Linked DNA regions of Homo sapiens: region 1 is linked to region 2. The links come from fine-mapping of genetic effects on gene expression. A gene starts in region 2. The other region holds a variant in brackets. All regions are shown on one strand. Distances are between the middles of the regions. Region 1 overlaps COL16A1 (collagen type XVI alpha 1 chain). Region 2 holds the start of ADGRB2 (adhesion G protein-coupled receptor B2).

Evidence for each region. PIP is the estimated chance that this variant, and not a neighbour inherited with it, causes the effect.
Region 1: its variant is fine-mapped to the expression of ADGRB2 in cerebellar hemisphere (GTEx, PIP above 0.99). The same link has a PIP of 0.9 or more in cerebellum.

Annotation. Positions count from the first base shown.
Region 1 is chr1:31,670,355-31,675,714 of GRCh38, reverse strand. COL16A1 (collagen type XVI alpha 1 chain) reads left to right here. Exons shown (of 71, transcript NM_001856.4): 43 at 404-457; 44 at 676-708; 45 at 2,875-2,991; 46 at 3,078-3,119; 47 at 3,213-3,299; 48 at 4,056-4,100; 49 at 5,069-5,113. LOC101929444 (a long non-coding RNA gene) reads right to left here. Exons shown (of 2, transcript XR_001737631.2): 2 at 4,648-4,883. Among named protein-coding and RNA genes, the nearest start is that of PEF1, 28 kb to the right of the region's middle. The variant T/C (reference allele first, on the strand shown) is at 2,623.
Region 2 is chr1:31,761,453-31,766,812 of GRCh38, reverse strand. It overlaps ADGRB2 (adhesion G protein-coupled receptor B2), which reads left to right and starts at 2,473. Exons shown (of 33, transcript NM_001364857.2): 1 at 2,473-2,929. RefSeq lists a silencer at 3,791-4,060 and an enhancer at 4,002-4,855.

The sequences.
Region 1 (5,360 bases), 91 kb after region 2:
TCCAGCCTGGGTGACAGAGTGAGACCCCGTCTCTACAAAGAAAAAAAGAAAAAAGAAAAGGAAAGGAAAAAGAAAGAGAGAAAATATAGAAAAACGACTTAGCACAGAAATAAACAGTAGTTCCATGGAAGACCCTCTGCTCAATTTCTGACCTTCCCTCTGATGTGGGGGGAAAACACTTGCTGTTGGACGGTTTGGGGGGTCGCTCTTCTGGGCCTCCCTGGCTTTCCCTATAAGGGTCGAGAGGCTTTTGAGCTAAGAATAGATGTCAGCCTTGTGCCAGCCAGGGCTCTCAGCTCTGCAGGACAAGGGGAAGAGGAGGCGGGGATGATGAGAAGGAAACAGGCTGACCAGCAGGCTAGAGAGATGGAGCCCACTCACTCGTGTCTCTTCTTGGCTACAGGGAGTGCCTGGAAACAACGGTTTGCCAGGACAGCCTGGGCTCACTGCAGAACTGGTGGGTACTGGCCAGGACTCCCTGTGCATGCCCCTTCCCTGCCCTTCCCAGGGCTGCTCAGGCTATGAAGCTGGCCCGGTAGCTGCAGTGGGGGTCCCTCTTCTCTCCCACTTCTGAGGCTGGAAGGTGCATGACGTGTCCCAAGGCTCTCCCTGATCCCATAAGTCTCCATGTTCCTTCCCCTCACCTGCTTGAGCCCACACATCTGTCTCTTGCAGGGATCCTTACCAATTGAACAGCACCTCCTTAAGGTAAGAGGGTACCCAGGAGGGAAGTGTGAGCTGGCGGGGGTGTCTCCTAAGGGGATTCTCTTAGTAAGTGCTCAGCTGTGTGGCACCTCGCAGAGAGAGCAGCAGTTTGCAGGGAATACGCATTCCAAGCATCTGTCTAAGAGGGCCTAGCTGATGCCTGGCTTGTAACAGGCCCCCAGGCAACATTTGCTGAATGAGTGCTTAAAGGAATCCTGTGAAGGTGCCCACATGGCAGATGCTGTCGGCAGAACCCAGCCCTGAAGCCTGCCCGCAGCAGCTGGCAATGAGACCCCGTAGCACCCGGGTCACCCTGCGGCAGAGCCCAGCAGCTTCCAAAGCAAAGCAGAGGGGGTGAAAGTGCAGTGGTGGGGGGCTGTGAGATTGGGTGTGGCCTGGAAGAAAGCTTCAGCTGTTCTCTAGTCAATCCAGAAAGAATCCAGGGAGGAGATGGATTTGAGAAGCACTTCTGGTAGTCTAAGAAAGGGGACTTCGGACCTGGTCAGAGGGTCGGCCTGTGCCAGGGCCTGTACACAGCCTTAATGCTCTACCAGAGGGCTGTGGCCTGGGCCGGCTTCCCAAACTGAGCAGAAGTTCCTATTGGAATCAAGAGTCACATAGCCCATCTTTGCTTAGTCACCTCTAGAAACGAGAGCACAGTAATTCCCCAGGTTGCCTTCAGGTTTTTGAAGGAGGCCCTTATGTTCCTGGACTTTCTCTCCTCTAGCCCAGCATCCTCAGGGGTCTTTCCCATGTGTTGGCCTCCAGAGCCCCCCCTCATCCTGGCCACCCTCTTCTGACACTGGCTAATTAGTGCCCTGGACATCCCATGACCCCGATGGGCCTTGGTCAGGGCAGAGCATGGGGGCTGTCTACCCCTTCCCTGCTCTGAACGGCAGATTTCTCCAGAAGCAGCCAGAGGAGGTCGGGGTAACCTCTTGGCATCAGTTACATGTTGGATCACAGTGAGGTTGTGGCAACGAAACCCCCAGCTCTTCTCCCCTCTGCTTCTGTCAATGACTGGGCAGTGATCGTGTGACTCCAAATCCAGGATTTGACATTTCTCCTGTAACATTTCATCTGTTGGCTTCTTCATCAAGTGCTCTTCAGAGGATTCCAAATAGAAAGTGCGCATAGTGTGGAGAAGGGGTCAGATGGCACCCCGGGGCATGCTGACCCAGAGCCCCAGCCACCACCTGCACCCATAGTCCAGGAAGCCTGGGGAGAGAGCACTGGCTGTGGCCTAGGACAGGCCCACGCCAATCCAGGCTCCCACTTTCCTTAGACAAGTCACGCCGCCTCTCTTGAGTGGGCTTTCCCATCTCCACAATGCTTATAAGATTCCCTGTCTCACTGCGCCGTCAAGATGGCATGTGATAATGTGCAGGGCTTATTATGTACAATGCCCAGCGTCATGGGTGCTGAGTAAATGCCAGTCGTTATTACTGGGCTTGGTGGTGAGCAGTGAAAGTGAGCAGGGGCTCCTGCCTGGGCATCTGTGGACACGACACTGGCCACAAACAGGCTCCGGGCTCCTGAGTCCTCAGAAATTGCAGGCTGGTTTTCACTAGTGGGTTTGATTTTTCTGAGAAAAGGACCCATAGCTTCCATCAAACTCTCAGAGGGGTCTGTGACCCAAAGAAGGTTAAAGCCCTTCCTGTGGGGAAGACAATTCTGGTGGCGCGATCCGAGCCAGGAGCCTGTGAGCAATCTGAGATCTGTCCCAGGGGCTCCTGGGAAGGGCCTGGCTCCTCCCGCAGCTGTTCCTTTGCTCCCTTGGGCAGAGAAGCTGGCGTTCGGAGCCAGCCTTTCCAGCCTCACTCCTCGTGGCTTGTCCTCGCAGTGGGTGCAGGTTGCAGGAACAGCCGGGACAGATGGTCCCTCTGCGGGCCCCTCGCCTCCACCCACATGCCTGTC[T/C]GGAAAGTGGCTTTGGCTTAGCTGTACCAGAGCTTCTTCCTGGAGGAAACTCAAAGCCAATTGTTGGGAGTGGGTCCCCCGAGGATGGAGCAAAGCTGCCGCAGGGATGCGGCTGGGGAGGGAGGGAGTGTGGGAGGAGGGAAGACGGCAGGGCAGGGAGCCCTGGCTCTGGGTTCTCACTGGGGCTCCCCAGTTGGCCCATCCTGCCCATCTCTAACCCAGGCCCCACTCCTCTCCCCACTCCCTGATCAGAGTATCTGCGGGGACTGTGTCCAGGGGCAGAGGGCCCACCCAGGGTACCTCGTGGAGAAGGGAGAGAAGGGAGACCAGGGCATCCCTGGTGTGCCAGGCCTCGACAACTGCGCCCAGGTAAGGGACTGGGCTTGGGGCTGCCCTATGCAGGAGGGTTCCCTGGCTGCCTCATCAGACAATGTGCCTCTCATTGTCCCTTGCAGTGCTTTTTGTCACTGGAGCGCCCAAGAGCCGAGGAGGCCCGGGTGAGTGCCTCGCCTTATCTCCCCCGATCATGCCCCATGCCCCACAGGGACAGGCCCTGACTGCTCACTATCACCGTCTCCATCCTTCTCCAGGGTGACAACAGTGAGGGAGATCCTGGCTGTGTTGGGAGCCCAGGCCTACCTGGTCCTCCGGGATTGCCAGGCCAGAGAGGAGAAGAGGTAAGACCAGGGATGGGGATTCATCCTCAAGGGAGCTGGGGCCCTGTCTGCCTTTGAGACCTCTTGGGGGCCTCCGAGGCCTCACCTGACTGATGCCCTTTACCACTCTGGGCTCATCTGCTCTCCTGGCACGTGGCTTCTCTGGGATACACAGGACCCAGCGTAGGACACACTCTTTCTCCCCAGTGCCCAGCTGCATCCTCTGCCTGCAACGCTCTTCTCCAGGGCTTATTCCTGCACTCCTTCAGCTCGGCTCAAATGTCTCCTTCTCAGAGAGACCTCCCCTGACCACCCTCTTTAAAATTGAACTCCACACCAACCCCAGAGCCTCCAGTCCCCTTGGCCTGCATCATACTCATCACCATCCAACATCCTGCCTATTTACTTCATTCAGGAACATTCTACAGGTGTCAGCTCAACACCAACTATGTGCCAGCTCCTGTTCTATTTGTTAGTGTCCGTCTCTCCCCTAGAATGTAACTGCTTTGAGGCAGGGGTTTTTATTTATTTTGTTTATGCTGTGATCCTAGCCCCTGGACTAATGCCTGGTACGTAATAGTTGCTTGTTAAATGTTTGTAGGATGACCGAATGGGCCAAATGAAAGATTGTTCGAACATCAGCTAAGTGGTCCTGCTTGGACAGCAGCCACCCTCTGTTGACCTTGGCCCTGGCAAGCTGGGAGGAAGGCTGCTGGAATCCCAGGGGCTCTATGGGGCCTGGGCCTCTTCATCCATTTCCCTTGGCTTCCTTTGCAGGGTCCGCCTGGCATGAGGGGCTCCCCGGGTCCTCCAGGCCCTATCGTAAGTATCAGTGGTGCCCTGGTCTGCTTGAGAAGCTCTCAAAGGGGTCATTACACTCAGACACCATCCCGCGGCCTTGTCCCCAAAAGGCTGGGCAAGGCAGGAGGAGGGAACTTCCACTGCCCTCCCCATCCCTCCGCAGAGCATCTGCAGGGACTGTGCTCTCCCACCACCGGATGCCCTGGAACCGCCCTGCTCTGCCTACTGCCTGCGGTCCTGCTTAGGGGAGGTCCTCAGAGGCACCTCTTTGCTTCCCTGTCCCCACCCTCTGCTGCGCTTTCCACAGTGGCCCCAGGCCGCCCTCGGCAGGGGGCCTAGGCTTCAGGCTCACAGCCTCCCAACCAGGGAAGCATGCGGCATGCTGGCCAGACCTCTCCATGCCCCTGTGACTCCAGTCCCCACAAGGGCTCGGGGCTAAGATGGAGCTGTCCTCCATTGCTCTGTAGGGCCATCTCTAGGGTAAATCTACAAAAACCAGACCAGGGTATCTACTCTGGAGTCCTCTGTGATGTTGACATGGCAGGAAAATAGAAGTGACTAGGAAAGATTGAAAGAACTGAAAATGCTTTCTCTGGAGAAGAAAATGGCTGGTGGGAGCTGTCTTAGAGCCAGGGAGCCCCCCACTCGGGGGACAGGTGGAGGTCGGGTGGCAGGCATGGTGGGCAAGGCTGAAAGAAATGGGCTTCTGCTGCAACCGGATCTTCAGTTAGACTCCGGAAGACTCAGGAAGCCCTCTGACTCTGGAGCCATTCCGCATCTCCGTCAACGGAGGAGCCATTCTTCCTGGAGCCAAGGGGAGGAACAGTTGTCTTTTGAGCCAAGACTTTCAAGGAGTCTCTTTTCCAGCTGCCTTGAAAATACTCCCATGACCTCCTCTCCCCATGACCCCCAAGCCCCAGACTGTGCCCTCCAGGCTGTCCCAGGGTTACTGTGCCTGTGAGATGTGACCTGCCTGTTTCTCCCACCAGGGCCCCCCAGGTTTTCCTGGTGCTGTTGGCTCCCCCGGATTGCCTGTAAGAACCTAGCGCTGCTCGACCTCCCCTCCCCCCCGTCAGCCAGGTCTCTGTGGCTTTTGCTTGTCTCCCTCCTGTCGTGCCTTCACCTCCGTCCTCCGTGTTTGTTGTCCCCCTTCAGGCACGGTAGCTAACGACACGGGTTCTCTGAGGTCCCGGCAGCTTGGACATCCTCCCAGTCTCTGACTCCTTTCCGTTTTCTCCTCTCCCTCCTCTCCTGCGTTCTTTCTCTCCTCTTCTCTCTCTT
Region 2 (5,360 bases):
ACCCCCGCCTGAGCATCAGAGAAGTAATTTATCTTCAACCAGCTGGATTTGAATATGGAAACGATTTGTAATTACTCCAAGTCCTCCTGGGCGGCATTATTACCAGAGTGAGTCTGGAAGGGCAGGGGCTCCTGGGAAAGGAGGTGGGGAAACCCTGATGCAGAGAGGTGCCTCCAGGGAGAGCCTTCCAGAGGTCAGCCCTAGTCTCGCCTGCTCACTCCTGTACAACCCTGGGGAGGTCCTGCTCTCCCCACACAGCTCCCACAACCCCCTTTGCCTTGCTGACCTCCCCACCTTGCCCCTACTGAGCCCCCGGCTAAGGGACACCATCTCTGTCAGTCCCTCACTCTGTCTACCTATGCTTCCTTGGGCGTACATTTTTGTGGCTGATAGAAGGGATCAAGAAGTCAGAGGGCTAGCGAGGAACAGAGAGACAGACAAAAACGCTGCTGTCGATCTGGGGCCAGTCCCTCCCATCACCTCTCACCCAGCTGCCTCCTGGGGAAGGAGGAGGGGGGGCCTCAGGCATCCAGCTGCATCACATCTGCAAGAGACCTGCCTAGGTTTCTCTGATCTAATATGCTAATGATCATGAATATTCAAAAAGAGGGAAGCAAGCTCCCTGTAGGAGAGGAGGGGGCTGGAGCTTTGGACAGGGTCCTGGAGATTTCTAAGGGGCTTGCATCCTTGTGGGCAACCCATGTCTCCACCATTTTCCCCACTTTTGCCTACCTCCTTGAAGCCCCAGTCTAGCAACCCCATTCCCCCTCCCAGTGCCCATGTAAGGAGGGGGCCCGGATTTCCCACTGCCCTGGGGTGGCTTTCAACATACTTTGCAGCTGGCAAGGCCTGCCTGGCCTGGCTTTCACATAGTAGCTGAGCCTTGAAATCCAGAGATGTCTGACTGTGTTTGAGGGTGCCTAGCAAACCCTAGGAGCCTTGCTTGCCAGTGCTAGGCCCAAGGCACAGGCCTCCTTGGGCATCCGCAGCGAAAGGGAAGGTGCCGGCCCAGCCCTCCTCCCTGCCTCATAAGGCCTCATAAATTCTCTTAAGGTGACAGGTGAGATTCCTTCATCGTCCCTTATTACCTCCTTCCATTAAAGTTGATAATCTCTCACAATCACTCACAACAAATGTCACCGAGGCTGCTGGAGGTGGGAGGGACAGAAGGAGGGAAAAGAGGGCGGTTCTATGCCTCTTCCTGGTACTGCCCCTGGGAAGAGGTAGGCTTTTCTCTTCTTGCCCCATCTTGAGGGTGCCACAACTTAAGGGGCATCAGTGGAGAGGTGGGGTTGGTATTTGCTGAAATGAGGACTTCTTTGCACTGAAAATTTGGCCCTTCCTGGCTAGTGAACCTTCAAAAAGTATGGTCCTGAAACCATCCCACCCTCATCGCAAAGCTGAAACCATCCCACCCTTATTGCAAAGCTGCCCCCTGCTGGTTTCTCCTCTGACCAAAGCCATGGGATTAACCTACTTGTGTTGGCTGCAATGGTGCGTCCCTGGTCGGCCTACCTTACTGATGGCAACATGCCCAGGCCACAAACTGCCTGACCAGAGCCCTGAACCATGGGCATCTCCCTGTGTACCGCCTGAACCATGAGGGCTCAGGCCCCACCCAACTGTTTCTGGGCTTAGTGCCAAGATGGGGAAGGGGTGGGTCTGTACATCTCTGCTGCTTCTACACAAACAGATGCAACATGGGGGCGCCCCTGGCACAGGGAAAGGCACTTGTGGGAATAGACAGGGACTCAGGAAAACATGTAACACACTGCACACGTGTAGCATCCCCGTGCCTAAGGACGTGCAACATTGCAGTTTACAGTATGCATCAAACATGTCACATTGCAGTATACATATGTGGCTGCTACATGAGTTACCCACAGTCCTCAGCACACATGTGGCACCTGTAAGCTTGCATACATATAACATCCCTGCGCACAGGAACAAGCAACATGCATTCAGGACTTGGGCACATGTTAATACACCGTGCATGTGTGTGGCACTTGCATGCACCTACCCAGGCAACATGGCAGTGCACACTTAGGGCACCTGTATGCATATGCAAAGTTCAGCGCACATGACTGGCACCTGCATGCACAGGGACATGCAATATGCAATGCACATGGGAAGGTGAGCAAATGCTTCAGCCTGCAGGGCCCGGGACACCCTGGCGGCGCGACAAGCCTCCGGCATGGGTATAGCTGGAGGGGCGTCGCGGATCGCCTCATTCTGCGGTCCAAGAAGCAGCGGGCTGGGCGGGGGCTTACCCAGGGCTTCTCCCGCGCCGGCGCCTGGGGCCCAAGGCGGGGAGGTGGGGGGCACGATCGGCTCGGCTGGCGCTGTTCCCCCTTTAACAGGAGGCGGCGCGCGTCGCCCCCGCCCCTTCTCCCGCGGCTCCTCGCGCCCGGCCCGGCGCGCGCCCCCTCCCGGGCCCGGCCCGCGCAGGCGCCGCGTCCCGCCTCGGCCGTCACTCGGCCCGGCGCGCGCTGCGGGCAGCGGCCGGAGCGGCCGGAGGAACCGGGTTCGGCGGCAGCGGCGGCGGCGCTCAGAGACCGAAGAGGATGCGGCACCGGCTCTCAGAGCCCGGGGCTGCGGCCGCCGCCCGCAAATAGGAGGCGGCGCGCGGCGCGGGCGGTGCTCGGGGCGGGGGAGCGGGGGAGCGGGGGGCGGCGCGGCAAGGAGGCGGCGGCGGCGGCGGCGGCAGGAGCCCGCGCCCGGCCCGGCGCCGCCCGCCCGCCCGCCCCGCGCTGCTCCGCGGCGCCTTTTCTGCACCCGCCGCCCGGGAGAGCGGGAGCCTCGGCCCTCCGCGCGGCTGCAGCTACCTACCCTGCGCCCGGCCCGGTCCCCGACTTAGGGATGGCAAACTTGCGCCCCGTGGCCGCCCCCGCCAGCGCCGGCCCCCGCTCCTGCTGCTGACGGCGCCCAGGTGAGTGCTCGGCCCCAGACCCCGACCTGGCCTCGCACCGAGCCCTGCCGGCGCGGTCCCGAGTTTCCGCACCGGCCCGGACTCGGGGCGCTCTCCTAACCCGTCTCTGCTGAATTCTCCCCCAGCCCGAACTGAGTTCGTTCAGCGTTCGCCCACCCCCATCTTCTGGGGAACTCCCAAACCTAGGGCCGAGGCCCCCTTAATCGCTGGTGAATCTCTAATCTCGGCCCCCCCCCTCCCCCAGCCTGGACCGACCCTCTTACCCATCTATGCTAAAGTCTCCCCCTCCAGAATTCTGACACAGACCGTGCTTGCTGTCTCGAGTCTTTCCCTATCTCGGCCTGGATCCGGGCAGTGTGCCCCCCACCTTTATTAGAGCCCCCCCATTAACCTGCAGCTCAACTGTGTCTCCCCCTCTATTTCCCGTCACGGTCTGAATGCCGGACCCTGCTCCTCTCCTCCACTTCATCACTGCCCGGAGTCTTTCCTGTCCCCATCCATGTCTGCCCATAGTTTCTACCCTCCCCCGCGCCTGTACCCCGACCATGCTTCTTCTCTATTTCTGCCCCTAGCGCCCCCTCCCCCATATCTATCTGACCGGAGTCCCGCCTTCCCTCGCCAATCTTGCTGCAAGTCCCCTCCCCTCAGCTTGGAATTGGGGCCGTGTCCCCCGTGTCTGCTCCGCGCCCCCTCCCCTCCAGCTGAGATCCCGACTGGACCCGCATCCCTGACTCCCGTGTCCATCTTTGGCCGGAGTCTATCTGTCCATCCCCCATCCCTATCCTCCCACCCCTGGTCATAGAGCTGGGCACCAGACGCACCCTCCCGCAGCCCCAGGGCCGGCATGATCCGGAGGGGGTTGTAGGCTGTGAAGTTGGCGGCCACTCCCGCAGTCAGCTTGGTCCGAGGGCACAGCCGGGGGAAGTCCTCCGCGCCGCGGCCCGTGCAGAGCAGGCGACGGGTCTGTTGCCCGCCGGGGGGAGGGGCGCCCGGGCCGAGAGATGCCGCCTGCCTGCCCGCCTCGCCAGCTGCCGGCCGGGCTCCTGGGCGTCCTCTGGCGCCCCCTGCCCGAAGCCTGGGACCCGCCACCCCTTCTCCCGCGGGCAACCCCGGGTTTCCGCAGCCAGAGCATCAGCGGTGGCTGCAGGACTGACGCTGGGAAATCCCTGGGGAGAGGAGATTGGTGGGCCAGGCCAGGTGCCTCCTCGTGCTAGCCATGCCCAAACACTCCTGGTTGTCAGGCCATATGTTCTGGGGGTGGGATGGGTTGGGGTGGGGTGGAGGGCTCACCCCAGCAGCAAGTCAAGAGTCCTTTGAGCCTTCACGTACAGACCAGCAGGATTGGCCGCGGGCTCCAGGACGCCTGGTTGGGCTTGTTTGTGCTTGGTCAGGTGTTGCCAGAGAGCCTCTACCCCATGGCATTTCCCATGAGGTGAGGGCTGGGGGCAAAGGTGGGCTCTGCCTGGCTTGCGCATGGAGTCGGTTGTGGGGGAATCCACCTGACCCTGGGACAGAGCAAGCACCTGGGGAGTATCCTCTGCACTGCTACTGGGGTGAGGGGCAGTGTGGACTCTGCGCAGGATATGTCCTGGTGATGGTAGTGGGGAGGTTAGGGAGGGTCTTCTCTGGACCAAGATTGAGAGAAGAGATCTTCCCCTCTTCTTCCCTCTCTCCTCCTTCCGCTCTCTCTTCTGCCCCCTTTCTGTATCACTCTTCAAAAGGACATGTCTAGTCTGGGGTGTGCGTGCGTGGTCTGCATTTCTGTAACACAAAGTGAGGTTCCATCTGGTATCTGCCCCCATCCCTCCCTCCCTTCCCACCCCCAAGTAATGAAGCTGAGTAAGTAGTTAGGAATTCAGCTTTCGGTCAGACGACCTACGTTCAAAAGCTGTGTGACATGGGCAAGCTACTTAATCTTTCTGAGCCTCAGTTGACCCTCTATAAAATGGGTCAGTGATCACTGCCTCATATAGCTGTTGGGAGAATGAAGTTAGGTTGTTTGTATAGAGTGTCTGGCACCTAGCAATGCTCAATATTGATAGGGGTGTGGGGCTGTTTCTGTTCAAGGCCAAGGTCAGGCCCCTCTCCACTCCACTCCTAATCCCAAAGGAGAAAAATGAAAAACAGGTTCCAGTGCCTTCACTCCAACCCCCAGTATAATAAAGACAGAAACACCTTTAGCCCCCAGTCTCCACTTTTCCCCCAAAGTATGGGTGCAGGGGGAGCCAGTGACTGTCAGTTTCCCTCATCTCCTCCTTGGTCCTGCAACTTCCCACTATATTTCTCTGGGATCAGCTCTGGCCAGAGGGATGTTAGTGAAAGCCAGGCCATGGTCTCTGGGGTCTTGGTTCAAGTGTAGAGGCTGCAGAGGTGGGAGAAGTACAGAGAAGAAACCCCAGTCAGAGTCCCCGAAGGCAGGCAGCCTGTTAGG